Linked DNA regions of Homo sapiens: region 1 is linked to region 2. Evidence: fine-mapped expression QTL. A gene starts in region 2. The other region holds a variant in brackets. All regions are shown on one strand. Distances are from middle to middle.

Region 1 (8,323 bases), 210 kb before region 2:
GCAGTGTTAGCTGGTTGGTTTCAAACTACTGGATTCCAGGCAAAGGCCTACAGATTGACCTTATTATTTTTGAAAATATGTTAAGGGTTTTTTCGTAGAGAGAGAAAGAATGGATTTTTTTTTAACTGGGAACCTCCTGATTCTTACGGAAAATTATCCTTCTATAAGAAGATACCAGAGAGATTTATTCAAGGTAATTTGATAACCTAAAATCAATTCTCCATTTTTTATCATATGTGGGATTTGTTGCTAAGTCGTGTTCAACAATAGCTTTTATGTTCCTAACATATCTGAAAGCTTATTTATGAATGGATATACTGGATTATTGATATACTGATTTTTTTTTTAATGGGGACATTTGCCATTTTCTTCCCAGAAATATGTAATCCCCTGGCTGACTAGGACTGTTAAACATAGTGTGGACTGGATGATGCCTTCGACAAACCAGAGAAGCCAAGTTGGGGGGAGCTGGTGCCTGGAGTGGGCCCTGTGCACCTCACCTGGCGGAGGCTGGGGGGGGCTCTGTCAGCAGGACCCTAGAGGAGACTCTCATTCGATTTTAAAGAAGCACAACGGGTCATTTTCCTTTGTATGTTCCTAGCGCAGAACTGTTTCTAAAACAACTTGAAGTATAGTTTTGTTATCTAAGCAATTTTTGTTTTAAGTAAGTAAGTGTACTAGAATGCGAAGCCGTTATGGTTCAGGTTTTTAAAAACTGGTACAGTATTGTATTTGTCTCATCTGTTGCACTGTATTTCAATCATCTGTAATTAAAATGATCATATGTTTGCTCCCTGGTCTTTTTTAAGTAAGTAAGTAAGTATCTTAGTAGATTTTTCCTTTGAGGAAAATCGGTAATAAAATAACATGGATTGAATGTTTACTGTGCGTCAAGCACAGTTAATATATGATGATGTAAAGTAACTAACTTTATGTGATTTAATTCATTCAGTAAATTGTAAATGTATCATGAGTCTTAAGTAAGTAAGTAAGTAAGTAAGTAAGTATTTTGGCTGAAACAGGAAATACTGATTGATTGATTGATTGATTGATTGATGATTGTAAAGTCAGAAACGCCCTCAGCTCTAACCTTGAGAAAACGTGGACGACTTGGGGAAAGGTCTGGAGACACCTGAGAGGAGCCAGTCAGGGTGATGAGTCCTTCGCATGCAAGTGCAGTGCTCTCTAAGGCCTCAGACTGCCCCCACCCCAAAGGAAGGGGCGTTCACCTTTTCAGGGCCACGAAGGCCTGGATGAAATCACACCACCCCCTGTGCCCTCTGTGTGTTGTCGGTCTTCTTGTTAAGGGTGTGGGGTCCCTGTCCCTCTCCACACACGTTACTACTGAGTGAGCCAGAGAGCCCGGTATTCACTGGGCACAGAGGATGCCCAGGGGACTGCTTGCCAGCCAGCCTTCCCCAGCAGTGAGACCATAGCAGCTAGCCATGCAGAACTCCTGCACGAGACAGGCATATGGTGGTCTCGGGTTTGAGAGGACCTGATGCTATTATTTCACTAGAAGCCGAGGTTGGCAAAACAAAATGAAAAAACAAACAACCGACCTCCATGTTAAAACCCAGGGTCCACTGCATCTTGTTTGTTTTCATGCTGAAATGCCCTGAACTGAACTGTCGTCTTCTCAATTTGAAGCCAACATGCGAGCTGATGAGAAGGACATACTTCATCCCAAACGGGCCACTCTCCATGAGGCTGCAACAAGTGACGAGGTGCAGGGCTCCTTTCTCACCCAGCTTTCTGGTTGAAAAACAACTGCGCGTTAACTGGAACCTCCACTGGTTACCAGCCTGCTTGGAAGGCGGCAGAGCAGTCGACTTGGGATTTGTGAGCCTGGGACTTTTTGCTGCTTCCAGGCCCCGGACTGCGCAACCCATGTAGCCCGGGAGCGGCCCCGCAGCACTCTGCTCCTGCCTCTGCCCTCTCTAACCCCAGGACATTGGTCGCTCCACATCCCCTGGCCTTAGCTGCTTGTACGGTGAGGAGTCACCCTTGGAAGTCCTGACACTGAGCCAGTCACTGAGGGGTAAATGCAAGAATTCTAAGCTTCTCGAGAAATACCTTCAGCTGGGGGCGGGGCGGGGGGAGGGGGAGGAGGGCAGCTCTGCATCATAAATTACTTACTTTAGGGAAAAGTGGCAACACTTGACCAAGGGCGTGCCTTAACACCATCAGAAGACAAGAATCTGCTCGGTGCCATTTTATTTAATGCAAACACTAGACAGTTTACAAGTCACACCTGGACACAAGCACGTGAACAGATGTACAGGGAATTCTGGAATTTTGAGATCAGTCCCCATTTCTTCCTCAGGGCCCTGGCACTGAACCCCAGCCCCTGTCCCAGAGCCTCCCCTCTGGGTCCCACCCCAGAAGCCACGCACACCTCCTTCCGCCCAGCTTTATCTTTCCTTGAGCTGTGACTTCACCCAGCATGTGCTCAGAGTTGTTACAAATTTTCTCTGCCAAATTAAGCTGATAGAGATTGGCCACTTTCAACCAGTCCTTTCAGTCCACTGTGTCTCCCCTCTCGCTTGGGACAGGCCCATGCTGGCCAGTGCAACCTTCAGATAGACACATGGTGACCAGAGCCCGCCAGGCTTCTGCAGGTGGCAGTGTCGAGCAAGTGTAAGATGTCTGTGGGAAGGAGAAGCTCCTGAAATGAACGTTCTGCAAACAGAAGGCTGAGGGGTCTTCCAGGCATGTCCAGTCACTAGGAGCTGCCACCGGTGGGCTTGAGTGCCAGGCTCTAGGCTTTGTGCAGAAAGCACCCGGGGCGGGGGGCGGTAAGGGAGAGCAAAATGGGTCTCTCTCAACTGCAGTCAGTGCTCCTGGGAACACGGTCTCACAGACAGCACATATTCTACGTCACAGCTCTAGGGTTTCAAGGACTTAGCCATCCGACAGGCCTCACCATAAAGGTAAAGTGGACAACCCCTGAGGTCACGCTGTCCAGGTGGCGACAGGCCACGCATGCCAAAATCCTCCATAGCCACCTCCGGCCCAGCACCAGCCAGAGGGTGGGGCCATCGGTTCTCGACATACTTGGTATCAGGGAGGGACAAGCCTGACAAAGTTCACAATCTGGCCAATGAGTGTGGGAGGCCCTGGAAACAGGCCAATCCTGCAAGCCACCCCACCCTTACTAACTTCCTGAAGCATGGGAAGCTTCTCGAGACCAGGCCAAGGTTTCTTTCCTTCATGGCACCACGCAGAGGCATTTCTGCAGTGCTGCAGGTCCCCCTTCAGCCACACAGTCCAGGTCTGTCAGGGATTAAAGGGCCGAGCAGGAAAAGGGGTGGTAAGGAGCTCAAGGGCACGCACTGGGAATGGCCTCACAAGGCAGCCTTGAGACGCACAGGGCTACAACTGACCACCCTCCACCACAGGCATGTTTGCAAAACGAACACGAGGCATGCGTTAGACAGATGCATGTGGGGGCTGCAGATTCCAGTGGTTTCCTTAAGAAACTGGAGTTGGCTCATCCCACTCAGCAGACAATCCCGCTCAGTGGACAGCCTATGAAACGCATGGGGCCATCATGCAGACCAAAGAGGCCCGTGAGTTTTGTAAGATCCTGCCTGTCTGGTGACTCATATCTGCTTTCAGAAGTGCTTTCTGACACAGCAAACTGACTATCAGTAGACAGGGGCCCTAGACCCTAGCATGTGGTTCTGTCCCGTGAGCCTCTGACAACAGAGCTCACCGGGACAGAACCATATGTGGGCCAAAGGAACATTCCAGGAAACCAGCTCTGCTCCAGCCCAAACCAGGCAGCTCCACGCCAGGTGAGGGGCGAGTCATGGGGTTCCTGTGTTTGCCACGGTGAGCATGGCTCCCCACGCACTCTCCCTCAGAGCAGACAAGTAGGCTGACCACAGAGCTACAAAGTCACCTGCGTTTCACTAAACCAAGCGAATGTCTCTTTCCCCTCTCCTCCCCCGCCGCCCCCAATTACATTTTTAAGCAAACAAGCAGGATTCTGGCTTTGATGCTCGTTCTTGACATCGGTCACTCTTGCTACCAAAACAGGGACACAGGGTGGAGGGTGAGCACCTCTCCCCAACACAGGATAAAACTCATCTCCGGTGC[A/G]GAAATGATTGCTAAAGACCTTTCTCATGTCAACCCGAAGGCCACACCCAGCCCCCTATGGAATCAGATGGGAAACAGGCCTACGAATTGCTTCATACTTATCCGGAAGATTCCTAAGCTCTCAAGGCAGGACTATCACGAGATGCATGTTTGTACTTAAATCACTGAAAGCCTCCGCTTGGACCGGCTCTCCGGAAGCCCAGCAACATAAAACCTGGGATGGGGAAGACTGAAGTGAAACCATCATCCTGGGTGCTGCGTGTGTGTGGTGTTACTTGGTGCTGACCGGTTCGCTCCTTGCAGGGGCTCCAAGTGGGTGCAGGCTGAGCCCCCCACCTGCAGCTCCTTGAGGCCACTGTCAGGGGCTGTCTATTGGCAGAAACCTGCCACAATGAGCCACTCCAGTGTGCAGGGGTCACAGTCCCTTGAGTTCAAACTCTTGTCCCCTAAGCATAAATGTCATCAGGCCTCAGCATCATCTTGGCCCCCGCATCCTGTGCTCAGTAAAGCTGGAGGCAGGCTGGCTTTGGGAGTTGGTGGCTCAGCAGCTCCCGAGGCTGGTGCTGGCTTTCTATCAGAGCTGGCTCTTGAATTTCGGCACCAAGTCTCAGCACGCTTGGGGCAGGGCAGAGAAACCAAACTCACAAACACCCAGAGCTCATCCGGGAAACTCAGACCAACAAGGAGCCGATGGCACAGAGCAGCACAGCAGCTGCGGGTCCAAATGAAGGGGTGGGGGGAGCCGGGTGACAAGCGGTGGCACCATTGTGCATGCCTGCAGCTGGACAGGGCCCTCAGATCCGGGCTGGTTCGGGCGGCGGCGGCGGCTCTGCAGACTGCGTGTGCAACGTGGAGTATTTCACTAGGGGAAAAAGAGGCCGTCAGAAGGAATTCTGCTCTGTCTTGCACAGAAGAAGCAAATACAGCAGCAAGCCCGTGCTGGGAACAGAACTGGGTTTCCCTTTGTATCCCCTGGGGGGCCGCTTAGCAACCTTCCCTCCTGAGCCTGGGAGCAGTTTTGGGCCGGTCAAGGGGAGAGAAAGAGAAAGCTGGACAGGCTCTGGAAACAGCTCAGCCTCCATCTCCTCACCTAAAAAATGAGCGTGTTCCTGCCAGCGCTGCTGGAAGGGTTATTTTAAACAAAGGGCTCAACCTAGCACCTGCCCACACAGATGCTGGCCTCGTGGTGGCTAACCGTGGCAAAGCTCATGACAGTGGATGCGACAGCGGAATCCATTTTTCCACATCTGAACCCAGGCCTATTTTAGTTCATTTGGTGCAGCACTGCCACCCGTCTTCAGCAGCATTGTAGGGCACCTGGCTCCCAGTACACACCACACAGGCTGAGCCCCTCCTGGTCTCCCAGGCCCAGTCCCCACGGCTGCTGCACTGTAGTTCCACTGGCAACACTCGCCTGAGCTGTCCTAGTCTCCCTGCCTGCGCCACCAGGCCTCGGCTGCTCCCCGACCCCAGCAAGCCTTTCCGGACCTCCTCATTGGCATCCCGTGGGCACAGGTCATATCTGCCTCGAGCAGTTGGGCACTCTAGGCCTGTGGCCTGAACTTATGCGACCTCAAATTGCCAACAGCTCCTGAATCCAGAAAGTGCTTGATGACCACAGAAGGGGGAGGGAGGGGCACAGGTGTTGACAATAGGGTCTGGGTTTTACCCAAGTTCCCTCTTGCCTGTGGCAATTTGCAAAGGGAAAAGTTCTAGGTCTAGGTGAAAAGCTTCCCCATGGCTCTGTTCAGGATGTAATTGTATTCGCTGATGGGGAGCAGAGGTGCCTGGGGCTCTGGCTCGGACGGACGAATCAAGGGCAGGGGCCGAGCAGCCGCAATGCCCAGAAGTCACAGGCATGGCAGCAGATGGCCCTGGCTGTCACCCCAGCATCTTTGGGCTCCTGAAACTGGGAGGCAGGCTCATCAGGGCAGGCTTTTGCTCTGGCCGGACATTCTAGAAGCAGACGCCTCTGTGCTTCCCTGCTTCTCTAGCACAGTTCTGCTCAGTGCTGGGACCAACTAGGAAAGCGTCAGCAAGGGACAGTGAGTACAAAGTTCTCACCTTGGGGTTCCTCACATACCACGGCTTCCAGGTTCTCTCCCTTCACGTAGTCTGCGTTGAGACCCTCTGCAAAGGGAAAAGGGCAGAGTTAGTGATGCGCACAGGACCTAAGGGTCCCCAATCGTGACTGAGAACTCCTGACCAAGTCCTCTGCAGCTAAAAAAGCAGCACAGCTCCCCTGGGGAACTCAAAACCCTGCACCCTGAGCCACCTGAACATCCTTATCCGGATGAAGACTGTTCGTCCCAGAATTCACTGCCCAGGAGTTCTCATCATCGTCCTCAGAAATAACAACGACATGCAGCGAAGGCTTCCGGCACTCCATCCTCATAGGGCAGCTGCCACCGCGTCAAGACGGCAGCTCCGCCCAGTGGAGGGGGCGCCCGATGGCAGGGCTCAGCACCATCCACAGGTCCGTGTGCGTGTGCGGCCCGGGGGCCAGGGAGCCAATCGCTATGAGTGATTGATGGATGCAGGGCAGGGAGGGGCGGATGGCTGAGTGGGGCTCAGCATGTAGATGCAGCAAAGCCTCCTGCCAACATGCAGCCTCCCAGCAACACCCGCGCGGAGGCCAACTGCTCCTCCCAGCAGCAGGAATAACCGCTGTGTCCACCTGAGCTTGGAGGGGCCAGCCCACCAGCAGCTGCTTCAGTCTAGTTAGTTATCTAGGCTTTCTCTACACCTGTTACAAGAGGGATTCGGGGACTGTACCAAGCATTCCCTCCCGCCAGCAAGGGCCAGTGTTCAAGTTCTTAGAGTGGACCCCACCCCTGCTGCTGCTTGCAGAGAGTCAAGAGTCTGTGTCTCATCCCTGCGTAGCACAGGGACTGGAACCCTTCAGCCCCGGGTCTGTGGGAAAACTGGGGCATGGTTCCAACCGACCGACCGACCGACCAGGCACCAGTGCAAGTCAAGCCATCGTCCTGGGCTACAGGCTCCTTGCCTAAACAAGAATGCCCACCACCTGCCTGCCCCGGTGGCTGCTGGGCTTGAGGTGGGAGCCAAATGGGCCTGTGGCAAATGCGGGCGTTGCTCTTTGGCAGGTGTGGCCGGCCCCACGCAGAGCGGGGCAGGTGATGAGTGCAGTGGAAGCTGCCCCAGGTGCACCTTCCCAGCTGACAGGTGGGGGCCAGGAGACACACCCTGAGCCTCGTGATCACTGCTAGCTGCCAACCCAGTGGGCGCTGGATCGTCTCCTTCCTGTGGGTGGCCCTCTATGTGCTCCCCAGGCATGACCACCAGTGGGCACCTGAGTCCTCACCATGGCACCTCAACTCTCCCCCCACCCCTGCCACATCCAGCCTGGGGACAGAGTGTCTGGCAGGTGGCATCCTCTCACACGCATCAGGGTAAGCTAAAGATGGTCCTGGTTACAGCCACGTCGGTGAGTGCCAGGGAAGCAGGAGGGAGAAGAGCGGCAAGGAAGCGCCAGAGCAGGGGGCGAATGAGGAAGCATCAAGGCTGAAGCAAAAGGAAAGTGAGGAAGGCAAAGCAGCGTTACCTTGACCTGCTGCTGCATCTGAAGGCAAGACACAAAGCTTAGAATCCCTGGAGTAAGAGCGCTCCTGACAGCAAACATGCGGGCTTTCCACACTGAGGGCAAAGGCAAGGGAAGCCAAGGGTCCCCAGCATGGGCCTTTTGGCAGCAGCAGAGGCCGAGAGCACCTGAGGGCCACAGTGGTGGGGGCAGGCCTTCCTCGCAGCCACCTCCTGCTGTCTCCCCAGAGCTTGGTGTTCTGCACCCCGGTCCCCTCTACCGCCATCTCCATGTGGCAGTGGCTGAGACTCAGGGGAAAGAGTGGGGACAGGAGGCCCAACCCCCAGCTTCTCAGTGTTTTCAGCCACCCCACAAACGTCTGCGGGACTCCTCCTGATTCTGGCCCGGGCCAGGTGCCAGGGACATGATGTACACGCAGCCCCGCCACGGAATGGACGGTCCAGAGACTCCTGATCACGGAGGGGGCAAGGCGAGCTGGGAGTCGCACACTCAGAAACCAACCGGCCCAATCCCGCCCCATGAGCACCAGGTGAGGTCAGCAGGGGGCGCTGTAGGACCACAGGCTGGGAGAGGCTGCTCCAGGCCTGCAGGGCGAGAGGAGCTAGGTCAGGACGGGGGACAGCAGAGGCCCGGGATGGGGATGGAAGAGCACCTGGC
Region 2 (8,315 bases):
GACAGAGTCTCACTCTGTCACCCAAGCTGGAGTTCAGTGGTACGATCTTGGCTCACTGCAACCTGTGCATCCTGGGTTCAAGCAATTCTCTGCCTCAGCCTCCTGAGTAGCCGGGATTACAGGTGCCCATCACCACGCCCAGCTAATTTTTGTATTTTTAGTAGAGATGGGGTTTCGCCATGTTGGCCAGGCTGGTCTCGAACTCCTGACCTCAGGTGATCCACCCACCTTGGCCTCCCCAAGTGCTGAGATTACAGGCGTGAGCCACCACATTTGGCCTACAGGCATGATTCTTTTTTTTTTTCTTTTTCTTTTTTTTGAGACGGAGTCTCACACTGTCACCCAGGCTGGAGTGCAGTGGCGCCATCTCTGCTCACTGCAACCTCAGCCTCTCAGGTTCAAGCGATTCTCCCCCCTGAGCCTCCTGAGTAGCTGGGATTACAGGCAGGTGCCACCACACCAGGCTAATTTTTGTATTTTTAGTAGAGATGGGATTTCACCTTGTTGGCCAGGCTGGTCTTGAACTCCTGACCTCAGGTGATCTGCCCACCATGGCCTCCCAAAGTGCTGGGATTACAGGCGTGAGCCACCGCACCCGGCCAGGCATGATTCTTAAAAGGAGGCTGGGTTGGCCCAAGGTACTCAAATGAAGACTTTGGGAACTGTGGGAGGGTGGGTGGAGTGTGTAGGCAGTGGGCCAGGGGACCAGGGTTTCATTTTTGTTGAACGATGAGGATTCCCCTTAGTCTTTTAGGGGCCTTGAACTGACAGGAACTGAAAACCTCTTTAAATAGCATTTGCCACACTTCATCCCATTTCTTATTTAATGTTTTCGTAACTTCTCTAGGCAGCCAAGCAGCTTAAGGGATTCTGGTTTGAGGTTCTCCTGTGTGGATGGGCTTTGCCTGTTTCCAGGTAGGGCCCGGGCAGAGGCCTAGAGTATCCTTCATTCCCTCAAGCCCTTGCACGCTGACCTGGGTGCTGCTGCTGGAGGTATCCTCAAGCTAACGGGCATTGAGCTTTGCTGCAGAGAAGGCAGCCTGCCTTGGGCTCCCTGAGTCTAGGGTGTGCCCAGGCATCCCTGGCTTTCTGTCACCTTTTCTTTCTTTTTTTCACCTTCCAAACTAGTCTTTAGGCCTCTCCTGGTTGGCCTTTGACTGGTGACAAGCAGACCGTCTTCACTCAGTCTCCCTCACCACCAAGACTGGCAGTGGTCTGGGTGGATGAGGCGGGTGGAATCACCTTTGATAGAGGACACTGAGGCTCGGAGCCCTCAGGTGACATGTGAAAAGGCATACCAGGAAATCAGTGACAGAGCCCAAAGCCTCTATCTTGTCCCTTCCTTCCAGCCTTACTCCCCACTCCATCTCATCTCCCTTCTGTTACTGATTAGTAGACATGCAATACATATACATGAAAGTTTCTGCTAAGGCAGGAGCCCACTGGGCCACAGGCCTTGCTCAGGCATGTCGCCGCACACGGGCAGGTGTTAAGGAGAAAATCTGGCTGTGAGGAGCCTCCATTGGTAGGTGGGTGGCTGGGGGGATGGGGAGGAGCAGGGAGCCATCTTTGGATCTCTGTCACTCAGTGATGTCATAGTCATGTTCTGTGAGTTCATGTTCTGACGATGACCAGTTTGTAGTTCAGCTTCAGGCCAAGTGCTTCAGCTCCATATAAGAGGTAGCTTTCTTGAGAGCAGAGATCGAAATATTTCCTATGCAAAGGATGGAAATACTTCCTGCGCGTAAGCGCAATCCTTTCATCATTCGAAGTATGTGGGGAGAAATAGATGGTCAATGGGCAGGGTTGGGGCAGTGGGGCAGGGAAGCATGGATCTTGAGGGTGGCAACTGGGGGCCAGTTTGGGTTGGGAGATGCTCTTATTTCTCTGGTTTGCCCTTGAAGCTGCTGCCTCTGGGAATGCCCTGGGTGTGCCCATACGTGAGTACGTGTATACATGTGCTGCTTGTGAGTTGGCATGGGCTTGTGTGACCCTTGTCATCCATCCAAGGGCCCACCACCCTGGTTCCCCCACCAAGGTGCCTGCCAACTGTGCCGTGTCACTTGCCACTGTGGGCAGTTGCTGGGCAGTAGCTGGACCCCAACTTGAATCTCTGGTCTAGAAAGGCCTGGCAACCTTGAGAGGCTAGGGTGCTCTGGCAGAGGCGAGGTATTGGTCAGATCACTTGTGGAAACCCTGCTCCCCTCTAGGCCTTGTGGAGACAGGGGAAGAGGGAGTGGCTTGGGCAGGTCAGGCCCTGGGAAACTGCTTGTAGAAGGAGCAGGGAGGGGCTGTCTGTCTGGAGAAAAGGCCTGGCCTGCCATGAACTATCTGAAGGGTGAGGGATTACCCTGTGTGGAGATGTTGACCTTAAGGCTCAGAGGTGGCTGGAGATGGAAGGAACTGCCATGAAGGAAGATGGTAAGCTCCCTATGAGTGGAGGTATGCAAGCAGAAGGCAGGCAACCACTAAGCTGGTTCTAACAGGACAGAGGGATGGATGAGGTGGCCTTAAGATCTCTGAACTCCTGAGTCTGTAGTGGGGACCTGGGTTAGTGACACAATACCTGCCTGCTCTTGTCAAAAGCAGCACTATCTCTGCCTTTTTTTTTTTTTTTTCGGAGTCTTGCTCTGTTGCCCAGGCTGGAGTGCAGTAGCATGATCTTGGCTCACTGCAACCTCCACCTCCCAGGTTAAAGCGATTCTCCTGCCTCAGCCTCCTACAGGCATGCATCACCACACCTGGCTAATTTTTTTGTATTTTTAGTAGAGACGGGGCTTCATCAGATTGGCCAGGCTGGTCTTGAACTCCTGATCTCGTGATCCGCCTGCCTCAGCCTCCCAAAGTACTGGAATTACAGGCATGAGCCACCGCGCTTGGCCTCTATCTTTGCCTTTTGATCTGGATTGGAACCTTGATGATGGGAGCCAACAGCACCAGCTTCAGGGGCTCAGGCTTGGCTGGGAGGCTCAGAGGAGTTGGTAAGAGGGGGCGTAGGGGTGAAGAAGCAGGTGCCCTGTGAAGCCAGATCCTTTGCACACCTCAAACTCAGCCACGGTTTCTGGAAGCAGCATTTGGAAAATTCATGTTCTGGTGGGGCTTATTTCTGAATATAGGACTCATAAATAGCTGGATCTCTTGGCCTTTCAAAGAAAAGAAAAACCAAACTCATGACATCTCTTCCTTTGCATTATTTTCTCCAACTGTCAATCTTTAAACTGCTCTTTTTCTCACCCTTTCATTCTTTCCAGGCAAGGGCCCTCAGATACTTTCTTTCCAAATAGGGCTGATACTTGCATTTGAAGTGGAGTATTTCTTCCTTGCGTGGGACTGTCCTATGCAATGTAGGATATTTAGTATCCCCGGCCGTTCCTTCCTCTTATTGAATTCCAGCAACACCTGCCAGTCATCCAGGCACCGGCCCCACGAATTTCAGAACATCCCTTACAGAAGTGACACTGCGGCTCCTATACTTTGAAAAACATTGCCTGAATCCCCAAAGAAGTGACTAGCTCAAGGCCATACCACCAGCCAATGGCAAAGTGGAGATCAAGTCAAATCCCATTCATTCATTCATTCACTCATTCATTCCCGAAGCTTTAATTCTTTGCTCTAGGGTGTGTCAGGAGAGCAGAGGGAATGAGGGCCTTGAACCGAGACAGTGAAGAGGGTAAGAAGAAAAGTGTTATTCTTTGCCCACAAAACTACAATTTCTCACAAATTCTCTGCTCTTGCCAAATTTTGTTTTCCTCTTTTAGCCCGTCGGTTCCGCAATTTCGGGCGCAAATAAAGACCTTCTGGCATTTAGTGGAAAGAGCCTAGTTGAGCACGATCCGCAGAAGCGGAATCAGGTGGCTTTCGGATAGGCAGCGAGATCCGAGGACTAAATCCCGAGGTCTTGGCGAGCAAGCAGCTGCCCTCCGCCAGGCATCGAGGAGCGAGCTGCCGCCGCGTTTCTGTCGCGGCGCCGCGGCCGAACCGGGTAGAGGTGGTCTACCATCGGCCCTTCGTGGTGGGCCCAGGGGTGTTTCCCCGGGCAGGGGAGCTGACTGCAGGCCAGGGGCGCCAAGGCCGCGGTGCGGTGGGAGCAGAGGGCAGCGCAGCGGGGCTGGACTTCATCTTCCCACGCCAGAGGCCGAGGCCTCCGGGAATCGCAGGGCCACCTCTTCAAAGCCCTTGGCGATCCCAGTTCTGTTCCCCGAGGGGGCTGGCGAGGTGGGCGGGGCGGGCAGGCGAGACTAGGTCTTTCCCTGTTTGGCCTCCGTAGCCGGCGCCGGCGGGTCGTTCTGTTTGAATGAATGATCCCAGCAGCCGCGCCCAATGGGCGTCCACGCCTGCTTAATATGCATGAGGCCCGCAGCCAATGGCCAGGCGAGGAGGCTGTTTTAAACGGCAGAGCCCGCTGGCCAATCAGGCGGCTCTCGTGGAGGCAGCTAGCGCGAGGCTGGGGAGCGCTGAGCCGCGCGTCGTGCCCTGCGCTGCCCAGACTAGCGAACAATACAGGTACGTCTCGCACCGCCCGCTCCCGCCGCCGCCGCCGCCGCCGCCGCCGCCGCCGCCGCCGCCGCCGCCGCCGCCGCAGCGCCCGCACAACTTTCCGGCCCGCGCCGCCGTGAGCGCGCCCTGCCGCCGCCTCCCCCTGCCTCTACTCCCCATTCCCTTCCCGCCCCCTCCGCCTTCCCTCCTGCTAGGCGGCCGGGAAGGAAGAAGCAATTCAGGTGTTTCAACTTTTCCAACGCGTTCCCCGAGCTCCCCGCTTTCGGGGGTCGGCCCCCTCGGCGGACGCCCGCCCGTGGCGGCCCCAGGGGCCGCAGCCGGGAACCCAGGGCCCCCGAGGCCAGATGTTTGGGCAGCTGCGGCTGCGGCGGCTGGGCGAGCAGAGGGGCGGCTGCGGGCTGTGGGCGCTGGGCGGCGGCAGCGGGAAGGGGGCCGGGAGTTCCCCGGCCCGCGACGGACTCCGCTGGGGAACGGGCGGCCGGTGCCCGCCGGGGGCTGCGCGGCTGGTGCCCGCCGGGGGCCGCCGCACGGGCAAACTTCGCTCCCGGGCTTGGCCCGGCGCCGCGCGGGCCCGCAGGCTACGCCGCTGGCTCTGCGTTAACATGGCCGTCGCGGAGCGCCCGGTGGCCCGGGGGGGCGCGGGCCGGCCGCCCCCCTCTCGCCTCCCGCCCGCCCGGCGCCGCCGCCGCCGCTAACATGGCTGGCGCGGCGCTGGCCTCCGGCGAGGGCAGGGGAGGCGGGCGGAGCGGTCGGCGGGGCGCCCGGCGGGCTCCGGCCTCGGCCCCGGCGCCCGCGGCCCGGGGCGGGCGGCTCGGAGGGCCGGGGGCGCCGCTGCGGGCCCTGGAGCGGCCGAGCGTCATGGCTGCACGGGCGCCTTTGTTATCCCGAGGAGTGCGCCCCGCGCCGGGGGGCGGGGAGGTCCGGCCCGGGCCCCCGAGCCCCCGGGCGGCCCGGGCGGGGCGGGGCGGGGCGGGGTGGGGGCCGACGGGCGGGCGGCGGCGGCGGGGCCCGGGCCGCTTTGTTCGCCGCTGTCGCCGCCGCCCGCGCCGGCCGCGCGCGGATCAGCCATTTTAGCGAGTGGGACTCCGAGGCGCGGCGGACGCCGCCACCAGTGCCGCGGCTGCCGCCGGCCCGGCCGCACACCCCCCGCGCACCGCCACCGCCGCCGCCCCCGGCCCCGCGCGTCCCCCGGGGATGACAGCGGCGGATTTCAGGGGCACTTTCTTTCATCAGGAGGCTTTTGACAAAATGGAAGGTGAATTACGGGTGTCCCGGTGACCCGGCACGGGGGCCGAGGCGGGCTGCCTGCTGCCGGCCGGGACTCCCCCGCTCCCGGTCCCGCCCCGCCCGGGCCGCCGCTGCGGGTCTCTGTTGGGCAGCCTCCTGGGCGGCTGCTGCCAAGGGGAGCTCTTTAGTTTTACATGATGACCTTGGGTGTGGGAAAAGGAAAAGATGGCGGGAAGCTGGGGGGTGGGACAGGGACGATGACATGCCGCAGCTGCATTTTTATTTGGAAACTTTGGAGAAAGTGTTCTCGGCTGGACCTGCATTCTGGGTTACAGATGAGCACGACTAGCCCTTTTTATACACCCTCCCCCTTTAGATAGTGACGAAGTGATGAATTGAACTAATAGTACGGGGGTACCTGCTCACTTTCCAGATCTCCCGTGTTGTAAAGCCGTTTTTTTAGTAAGCCAAAACACATCAACAATAGTGACAATTTCAGATGTCCCCTACGTATAGTTCTCCTGCTTTGGTCTTGTGTTCAGCAGTGGTAAGAGTTGTTGTTTTTAATTGTGTTAACAGTTAGCAGATGACCAGATAGTCTTAAGTCATAGATTTCAAGCTTCTATCACCCCCACCAAATGTGTCCTCTCTCTACCCTTCCCACTTTGTGATTGTAGTTTCCAAAACATAGCAGTTCTGTAAACGTAACACTGAGTACCCTACTTGGGTCGGCTCCATTTGGAGCACTTGATCGCTTTTGAGAAGTAACTCGCAAACCAGCGCGCTTCGTGCTGGTCAAAAGTTAAATGACAAGCGACAATGAAGCTGATTTCTTTCCTACTCTGCCTTCTGCCACTGGTGTCCGGCATTGGGGGAAGGGGACTTCCTAACAGCAAGTGTAGTTTTAGTTTTGCTCTGCCTTTGGTACGTCTTGTACTTCTTGTCAATTCCTCCTTGCTTTTCCTCATTGTATTTCTTTGTTTCTCTTTTATCACAGTCAGGATGGCTAAAGGTGACCCCAAGAAACCAAAGGGCAAGATGTCCGCTTATGCCTTCTTTGTGCAGACATGCAGAGAAGAACATAAGAAGAAAAACCCAGAGGTCCCTGTCAATTTTGCGGAATTTTCCAAGAAGTGCTCTGAGAGGTGGAAGGTATTTTTCTTTGGTACCCTTCAAACTAGTCTTAGTTGGGTTTCTTACTTTGGGGTTACTTACCTTCAGATTTTCTCCCAGATAGCTGCTTGCTTCCTCTTTTACTTTTACTTAGAATCATTTTTGCTTGTCTTAAGAATTTTGTGTGTGTGCTTTTATTTTTTTAAGGCCCTGCACAGGTTTCAGGCCTTTACCTACCCCCTTTTGCAAGTGGTTCTAGCAACTGCTAGTTTAATCACAAGAAACTGAATAGGTATGTGTTCACTGCATCGAGGGATTTAACGAGTCCTGTTCTTTGCAGACGATGTCCGGGAAAGAGAAATCTAAATTTGATGAAATGGCAAAGGCAGATAAAGTGCGCTATGATCGGGAAATGAAGGATTATGGACCAGCTAAGGGAGGCAAGAAGAAGAAGGATCCTAATGCTCCCAAAAGGCCACCGTAAGTGACTATAGGATTCAAGATAACAATTAATACCTTTTCTTCTGCTTGGAGGATTTGGTTTTTTGGTCGTCCTGTATTTCATTTCAAAATGAAATATTTTTTAAAAGATACTTAAAAGATGGCAATACCTCTGCAAACCATTCTGTACTTGGGCTTTACGATGCAGTGCCAGCGTTGTCTGTGGTTAAGGCTGAAGTGTTTGTGGGCTGTGCTTGCACATTCACAGTGGTTGTCTGTTGGCCTTTCCATTGTGAAGGAGGCACTCTAGTTTTGGTTGTCAGGGTCCTTGAAGTATGTTCTTTATGCCTTTCCTAGTAATTGAAAGACTGGGACAGCACCATATATATATGCGCGTATATATACGCATATGTATTATATATGCATACACACACACAGAGCACCATATATATATGCGCGTATATATACGCATATATTTTATATATGCATACACACACACACGCATACATATTTGAGATGGAGTTTCGCTCTTGACCAGGCTGGAGTGCAAGGTGTGATCTTGGCTCACTGCAACCTCCACCTCCTGGGTTCAAGTGATTCTCCTGCCTCAGCCTCCTGAGTAGCTGGGATTACAGACATGCACCACCATGCCCGGCTAATTTTTTTTATATTTTTAGTAGAGACGGGGTTTCTCCATGTTGGTCAGGCTGGTCTGAAACTCCCAACCTCAGGTGATCCGCCTGCCTCGGCCTCCCAAAGTGCTGGAATTACAGGCGTGAGCCGCGCACCACATATTTTTCTAACCTTATATATTTTAGAACCTACAACTTTGTAGCATTGTATATGGTATCATAGATTACTTCACTTTAGGGAGAAGTCATAGTGGTAGGAGGGAGATGCTTCTCAGGAATGTGGGATTTCAACTTTAACTCAAATTTTTTGTGGTTTCTCATGTAATGTATGTAATTCTTCCAAGGTCTGGATTCTTCCTGTTCTGTTCAGAATTCCGCCCCAAGATCAAATCCACAAACCCCGGC

The links.
Region 1: its variant is fine-mapped to the expression of HMGB3 in whole blood (TOPMed, PIP above 0.99). The same link has a PIP of 0.9 or more in blood mononuclear cells and monocytes.

What each region holds. Positions count from the first base shown.
Region 1 is chrX:150,764,136-150,772,458 of GRCh38, forward strand. It overlaps MTMR1 (myotubularin related protein 1), which reads left to right. Exons shown (of 16, transcript NM_001306144.3): 16 at 1-973. It overlaps CD99L2 (CD99 molecule like 2), which reads right to left. Exons shown (of 11, transcript NM_031462.4): 10 at 6,169-6,234; 11 at 2,201-4,966. The coding sequence ends at 4,899. Among named protein-coding and RNA genes, the nearest start is that of MTMR1, 75 kb to the left of the region's middle. RefSeq lists a silencer at 3,553-3,662 and enhancers at 7,731-8,278, 8,279-8,323. The variant A/G (reference allele first, on the strand shown) is at 4,105.
Region 2 is chrX:150,978,874-150,987,188 of GRCh38, forward strand. HMGB3 (high mobility group box 3) reads left to right here and starts at 4,462. Exons shown (of 5, transcript NM_005342.4): 1 at 4,462-4,503; 2 at 6,722-6,876; 3 at 7,178-7,317; 4 at 8,255-8,315. The coding sequence starts at 6,727. RefSeq lists an enhancer at 3,476-4,171 and a silencer at 4,293-4,492.